Homo sapiens: one gene and its partner. The protein of the gene in region 1 purifies or fractionates together with the protein of each later gene. This does not show direct contact. Each region holds a gene or a part of one and is shown in the gene's direction. Other genes may lie near its edges.

Evidence for each region.
Region 2: the proteins of VTI1A (region 1) and SCFD1 purify together in Homo sapiens (affinity purification with mass spectrometry; one large-scale study listed by BioGRID and IntAct). This does not show direct contact.

What each region holds. Positions count from the first base shown.
Region 1 is NC_000010.11:112,450,139-112,453,966, forward strand, and holds part of VTI1A (vesicle transport through interaction with t-SNAREs homolog 1A), read left to right. Parts: exon of another isoform or gene 1-588; intron 589-3,828. UniProt on the Homo sapiens protein: V-SNARE that mediates vesicle transport pathways through interactions with t-SNAREs on the target membrane. These interactions are proposed to mediate aspects of the specificity of vesicle trafficking and to promote fusion of the lipid bilayers.
Region 2 is NC_000014.9:30,625,151-30,628,978, forward strand, and holds part of SCFD1 (sec1 family domain-containing protein 1), read left to right. Parts: intron 1-3,058; coding exon 3,059-3,129; intron 3,130-3,828. UniProt on the Homo sapiens protein: Plays a role in SNARE-pin assembly and Golgi-to-ER retrograde transport via its interaction with COG4. Involved in vesicular transport between the endoplasmic reticulum and the Golgi.

The sequences.
Region 1 (3,828 bases):
ACTTGGGCCTCCCAAAGTGCTGGGATTACAGGCGTGAGCCACCGCACCTGGCCTGATCATAATTCTTAAAAACGCAGTAGTTGCCCTCTTAATAATGACTTGTGCTTGCCCCTTTTTAAATCTATTTCCAATTGATGTATAGAAAAAGATGAAAAATATATCCATGTAGTTATGAATTTCAGATGTATGTCTGTAGATGAACAGACATTAATATATATAACCATGGCAAAAATAGTTTGATGACAAGTAATTATAATCTCTCTCTCTGGCCATCATTGGCGAGTGCAGTGTTGAGCTAAAAGTGACCCAGAGGAGGTGAACTATAATTTACTTGAGTTAAGAAGGATAAAAATTGGAGCAAACTTTCCAGCCAAAGCAGTTAATTCCCCCAACATAGTAACTTACTTAAATTCAAGTAGAGTGGGTAGATCTATTGAAATGAACTTTACTCTGCTGTGCATGTTACAATGTATTAAAGTATTGCTTCCAAAGAGAACAGAAGAGTGAACATTTAAAAATTTTATTTTAAGAAAGAAATCTGATTACTCTGTGATATTTTTTAAACAATAAAGAGATTTTGCTCTTAAAGTGTTTGAATCTTAACTAATTTTAGTAATTGAACTGAGATGGGTGAGTTCTTTCTTAATACCCTATGGCACTATATTTGAACATTGTTTTTTTAATTATTATGGTTCTGTGGGAAAGTAAGGAAAAGGGATGAGCAGAAACTATACAGTTAGTACTTTATTGTGAAGTTCCTTTTCCTCTAGTGATGGGAGTGAATTCTTAAGTGGGGAATGTTTTCCTCTGGTGCAAAGATTCTGTTACACGAAATAGGCTTCCTGAAGAATTTTAAAGTAGTCTTTTTGCAATTAGTTGCTTACTTTACCATTCACAGAGAGGGAATGATCTGTTGTGAATCCTGTCACTTTATGGCTGTCCTCAGAATTGTACCAAGAAAGTATTACAGCAAAATGATTCAGATTCAGACATGACATCAGATCTGTTTAGAACCCTAGTTCTGCTACTTACTAGATGTGCAGTCATGGACAATTGCTTGGCCTTTCTAGGCCTGTCTCCTCCATCGGTAGAATGGGGGTGAGAGAGTAATAATTTCAACCTTATAATGTAAAAATCAGTGAAATAAAACATGTAACACACTAGCACCCTTCTTACACAGAGAAAACACGTGATATACTAGCCATTAATGATATTACTGCTGCTGCTGAAGACAACAGTTGGTAAGATTAGCTAGGACCCCGCTCTTCAGACTTTGTCATGTTAATTGAACTCTTAAATCTTACACTTCAATTCTTGCTTCCTTTCTGTTCCTAGACTAGAATTAGGTAAATTTCTCTTGATGAACACATTTGAAAGGAGGTAAGTGATTAGGGCCTTTTGGATATGAATTTGGAACTGGGCTTTGAACTCAGGATCCCAAGGGGGGCAGTCGGAGGAGAGAAGTGAAAGTGGTGTCGGACAAGGCAGGTGTCCTTTCTGGAAGGAAATGCCTGAGTCTAGTGGATTGGTTATGCCAAGCCCTGGAGGATTGTCTAGACCATCTAGACTTAGCCACGTGTAGATGAAGGCATAAACATACTTCTGTGATTCTCTCTTGCCTTTGCAAGGTGGTTGCAGTGAGATAATTCAGAAAAGTTGGCTTTTGTTCATGAATATTGTGGTTTGCTTAAAATATATTTGGCTTTAGAGCTGTAATATCTACGTGTAGCTATTGAGCACCTGAAATGTGGCTGTTGCTACATTGTGAAATGATAATATTTTAGATATATGCAATTACGTATTATTGAAATTAAAAACATTATTAAAACTAATTTCACTTGTTTCTCTTAAAAGTTTTTTATTTTTGAAAACTTTAAAAAATACTGCTACAAGAAAATTTAAAATTGCATGTGTGACTTGCATTATATTTCTGTTGCTCTAGAGGGTTACAGTTGAAGGGATGGTTCCAGTCCTGATTCAGGAACTCACTGCTACAATAGTTTGTTCCTTGTTAGGATTCAGGCTACCTCAAAATCTGCTTCATGAGCTGCTGGGCAAGGTCCAGCTTTTTCAATTGAGCATACAGGGAAGATAGTCTTTAGCAGTTACTGATGGCCCAGTTATGTCTCATAAAAAATTTAAGCATTTAGGGCCGGGCGCGGTGGCTCACACTGTAATCTCAGCACTTTGGGAGGCCAAGGCGGGCAGATCACGAGCTCAGGAAATCGAGACCATCCTGGCCAACATGGAGAAACCCCGTCTCTACTAGAAATACAAAAATTAGCTGGGTGTAGTGGCACGTGCCTCTAATCCTAGCTACTCAGGAGGCTGAGGCAGGAGAATTACTTGAACCAGGGAGTCAGAGGTTGCAGTGAGCCAAGATTGCGCCACTGCACTCCAGCCTAGTGACACAGTGAGACTCTGTCTCAAAAAAAAAAAAAAAAATTAAGCTTTTATGGGGTTGTATTCATCTTTGAATAATATACATTCATATAAACAATTGTGTGTGTGTATGCATCTATAGATCTATATATCTGTATGTTGTCTATATATTGGTCAATTTAGTCAACCTAAGTAATGGCTTCAGTCTTTTGTTTTTGTTTTTTTTTTTTAAATAAACTTTTTATTTTAGAACAGTCTGAAATTTACAGAAAAATCACAAAGATAGTACGGAGAATCCCATATACCCCATGCCCAGTTTTCTCTGTGATTAACATCATGTTAATATGGTACATTTGTTACAGCTAGTGAGCCCATATTGATACATTATTATTAACTAAAGGTCATACTTTATTCAGATTTCGTTTTGTTCTGTTTGTTCTTTTTACCTAATGTCCTTTAACTATTCCAGGATCCAATCTGGGACACTGTAAAACATTTAGTACTCATGGATTTTTAGGCCCCTCATGGCTATGACAGTTTCTCAAACTGTCCTTGTTTCTGATGACTTTACAGTTTAGAAGAGTACTGGTCAGATATTTTCTAGAAGGTTCCCTCAACTGGGATTTGCTCAATGTTTTTCTCATGATTAGATTGGAGTTCTGGGTTTTGGGGAGGAGGACCACAGAAGTAAAGCATCATTTTCACCACATACCAAGAATACATACTGTCAACATGACTTATCACTACTGATGTTAACCTTTATCACGTGGCTGAGGTAGTGTTTGCCAGGTTTCTCCACTGTAAAGTTACTGTTTCCCTCCCTTTTCCATACTATTTGGAAGAAAATCATATATGCATAGCCTATACTTAAGGAGTGGAGAGTTACACTCTACCTCCTTGAAGCCAAGTAATTACGTGAATTATTTGTAATTCTTTTATGTAAGAGAGATTTATCTATTCATTTATTTACTTATTCAGTCATTTACATCAGTATGGACTCATAGATACCTATTTTATCCTTTGTGTTATATTCCAATACTACTTTATTTTCATGTTGCTCAAATTGTTTTAGCGTTGACCATTGGGAGCCTTTTTTTTAATTTGGCTTCTGTGTCCTTTTGGTATACCCCCATCATTTTGGCTTTTTTCTTTTCTTTTTTTTAAGGACTATATTGCTTTCTGATAGTATAAGATACTCCAGGATCATCTTCTCTATTTCCTGTTTCAGTGCTAGAATCAGCCCTTTCTCTGAGGAATCCTGTTTCCTTTAATTAAAGAAGGGTATTAGAAACCAAGATCTGGACAGTAGGTGTGCACATTACTCCCGGGGTGTTGTTGCCTCTGGAACCTCTCAGCTGACAAAGCAAGGAAATTCACATGTATATACTAAGCCATGTATATGAACATATCTACAAGCATTTGCATATGTAATCATTTGTATATATA
Region 2 (3,828 bases), on another chromosome or scaffold:
ACTGTTTTGTTCAGTTGCTAGATCCCCAATAACTACAGTGCCTGTGGTGAGCACTCATCAAACGTGTTGAATGAATGAATAGTGTGTATGTAAGTAATGACATTAACCAAGTCTAGGAATATGGATACAGGTTGAGTATCCCTTATCCAAAATGCTTGCGACCAGGAGTGTTTTTGATTTTGGAATATTTGCATTATTACTGGTTGAGCATCCCAAATTTCAAAATCCGAGCACCAGCTTAAAAAATTTTGATTTTGGAGCATTTCAGGTTTCAGATATTAAGACTTGGGATGCTCAACCTGTAGTATATTTAGAGCCAATAAGAAAAATGGTTTGTCATTTCAGATAAAGTCATGGTTTAAGCCTTGGGTAAACTCTGATAAAAGTAAAATTACGTTCTTGTAAACTCTGAACACAGGCCGTGTACTCCATTAACAAATCCTTTTTGTTATAGGTATAGGTATACCTATATAGGTATAGGTATATAGGCATATAGGTATACCTATATAGGTATAGGTATATAGGCATATAGGTATACCTATATAGGTATAGGTATATAGGTATATAGGTATATAGGTATATCAATAGGTATATTGATATAGGTAAAAGGTATATCAAAATACCTTTTAATAAGTTAGCCAAGGCTCAAAGTTGGAGAAAATCTCAGACTGGGCTGAGAAGGCGAATGTAGGATTATCTTATTTGCTGCTGCTGGCCTCTTTCAGTTAGCTAAGGCCTAACTGTGCAGCATACTAAACACCTGAGGCTCACATGGCAGCTCAGGCTTTCGTTCTTCCAAGTTGTCAGGCTTCAAGAGTGTGAACAGCTGTTCCCAGAAACAGGGTTTCCTCCCTCTTGGGCGTGAGTGCCAGGGTGGTGGTGTCTTTATTGCCTGGAGGTGGAGGAAGAGCTCTGCAAATGCACAGTGGGAGAGTTAATCCTGAAACCCCCTCCGTGCTTCCTGTGTTATTTCAGTTTTAAGTGTTAAACTGTTTTTTTGTTTATATTAAATATATTTAATATTATAAATACATTAAATAAAATACATTTTTATTTAATGTAAAACCTGTGGGCCTCTGAAGTAGGTAATATTGGTAATGTGTATTTTTGGCTGGACATTAGGTAATAACATTTTACCAAAAATTATGTCTGTAGGTGTATGGTAAATACACCTGATAGCAATAACTTAAGCGTGCCCTGAGAATGACCCTGTATTGCAGACACACCTGGATATGTGTTTCAAGCTAGGGAATCAAAATGGCCCACCTGGAGATTCATTCCTTGTCTGTGAGGAACATCTGAGCCCCCAGCCCATCCAGTGAAACATAGGCCATGCAGTGGATCAAGGCCCCGAGTTTTGGGTTGAATGAAGGTTGCCAGGTGGAGGTTGTTAGGGAAATGTTAAGTGAAAATGCTGTATAAACCACATTTTTGCTATATAAACCACTTTTTGCATGCAGTTATGGTTCTCCTGCCCAGCGCATTGCCACTGAGTATACAGTTCTCCTGTCCAGCCCACTGTCACTGGACTCTCCTATGTGTGTTGCCCCCATTAAAACCCTGTGTCTCATTTCCTGGCTCCGGGTCTCTTCTTAGGCCTCTCAAACATGGGTATCTTCCCCACTGGAGGCAATAAGGGTTCGGCACAACAGTATGTACACACACATAAGTATGCAAATGTATCACTGAAGTACAATCTGTTCAGTAATAGCAGTTTTAACAGCATTATACCTACCTCAGCAAGCAAGCATTTAATAGAAGTTTTTCTTGTGAGTGAATGAATATGCTGTAAGTTGATATTCAGGTGATTTTAGTATTACATAGTTCTCTCGTAGGACTTTGGAGTATAGGTTATTCTGTATTACTTAAAGCCTGATGCAAATGTTTTTAACAATCAACCAAGTGGATTTTAAGGCTGTCAATTTTATAAAAATTAAATCAAGAAATTACAACTAGTATACTCTCTTGAATATTTGGCCATCTCAGTTTCACGAAGAAGTATATTAAGGGATTTTCATTTTCTGTAACACTGTTACAGATGAGTGATAAATAACACAAAATACTGTAACAGACCCGTAACTGTGATTTTTGATGTTGTATATTTGCTTAGCTGGAATTATCAGTTATCTACTATATGGGAAAGTCTGTTTTCCCAAGGGACATAGAATTTTAAGCAACTTTTCGGTGAATCTGACAGGATAAATTGTTTGTAAAATATACTCTTACATAACTATAGACAGATCTGTATGAAGGTTTTGTATATGAACCAATTGAATATGCCATGGATAATTTTGTTTTTAGAAAGACTGATCCAGGCCGGGCGTGGTGGCTCACGCCTGTAATCCCAGCACTTTGGGAGGCCAAGGCGGGTGGATCACCTGAGGTCGGGAGTTCTAGACCAGCCTGACCAACACGGAGAAACCTCATCTCTACTAGAAATACAAAATTAGCCGGGCATGGCAGCGCATGCCTGTAATCCCAGCTACTCGGGAGGCTGAAGCAGAACTGCTTGAACCTGGGAGGCAGAGGTTGTGGTGAGCCGAGATCACGCCATTGCACTCCAGCCTGGGCAACAAGAGCGAAACTCTGTCTCAGAAAAAAAAAAAAAAAAAAAAAAGAAAGACTGATCTTTCTCACTAGGCCACTCACACTTAAAAAAAAAAACAGACAGACAGACTGATCCTTCTCACTAGACCACTCAGACTTAAAAAAAAAAAAAAAAAAGACTTACCTTAATCTATGCTTTCAGCCAGACAGTACACAGGCAACAGCATCAGTATATTGAGGCCATTGCAAGTTCTTCCTGAACATTTCCCGCGATTTCATCTGTGGACAGATGCTTATTGTGTTTTGGGAAATCTCCCAAATACATGTCAATTAGCTGTCGATGGAATAGTCTTACAAGATCTGACCCCTAGTTCTACACATATAGTCATTTGGTTAATCAGTTTTACTAGAGTTGATTAGTTTATTTTGCTTTGGGGTAGTGAATGATGATGGAGGAAAAATAAAATCCTAAAAAACAATGACAATATTTGATAAAACTTTTTATTTTCAGTGGCTTTGAAGCGTATGTTGAATTTCAATGTGCCTCATATTAAAAACAGCACAGGAGAACCAGTATGGAAGGTAAGAGTTTATCTTAATGGGAACTGATTTCTGTTTTTCTCAGCCCTTATTGGTGGTAATTGGAGGGAATTTATTGTAATATGGAAGAAGTAACACATATTAGTTATCATGAATGTTTTATCCTTATTTAACATGATCTCTTAATATGAATTGTTTTGACAGACATTCTATGGAGTGAGACAAGTGATAAAATAGTAATTTTCATCTAGGGAGTCCAGTTGATCTCTTTGGTAGGATGTCACTGATAGGTCTTTTTCCTGGTTGATATTTTGTTCCTTAGCTTTTCAAGTCCAGACTTTGGATTTTATAAGCTTGCTCGGAGTTAGTCACATTCAGAGGGCCTGGATTATTTTAACAAACTCATGAGAAAATGATCTGTAAACTGTAATACCACTTTAATAATTTATGAGATATAAAACTTAATTGAACCAGAAAGCAATCTACAATCTTTTCCTTTGAGAAATACTGGAGAGCCTTTAAAAATTCCAATTCTTTAGGCTTCTTCATTTTAAACTTCATGCAGACTCTCTTTCTTCAGATGTTATAATACAGTTGATTGGGTTTAAACTTACTGGTTAACAGTCTCTTTATATTTCTCTCTTGCTAAAAATTAAGAACAAATCAACATGTTTAGAATTTAGGGTGTTTTGAAAACTCTCTTGAGTCTTTATAAGTCCTTTGGGTTAACTCTAAAAGTAG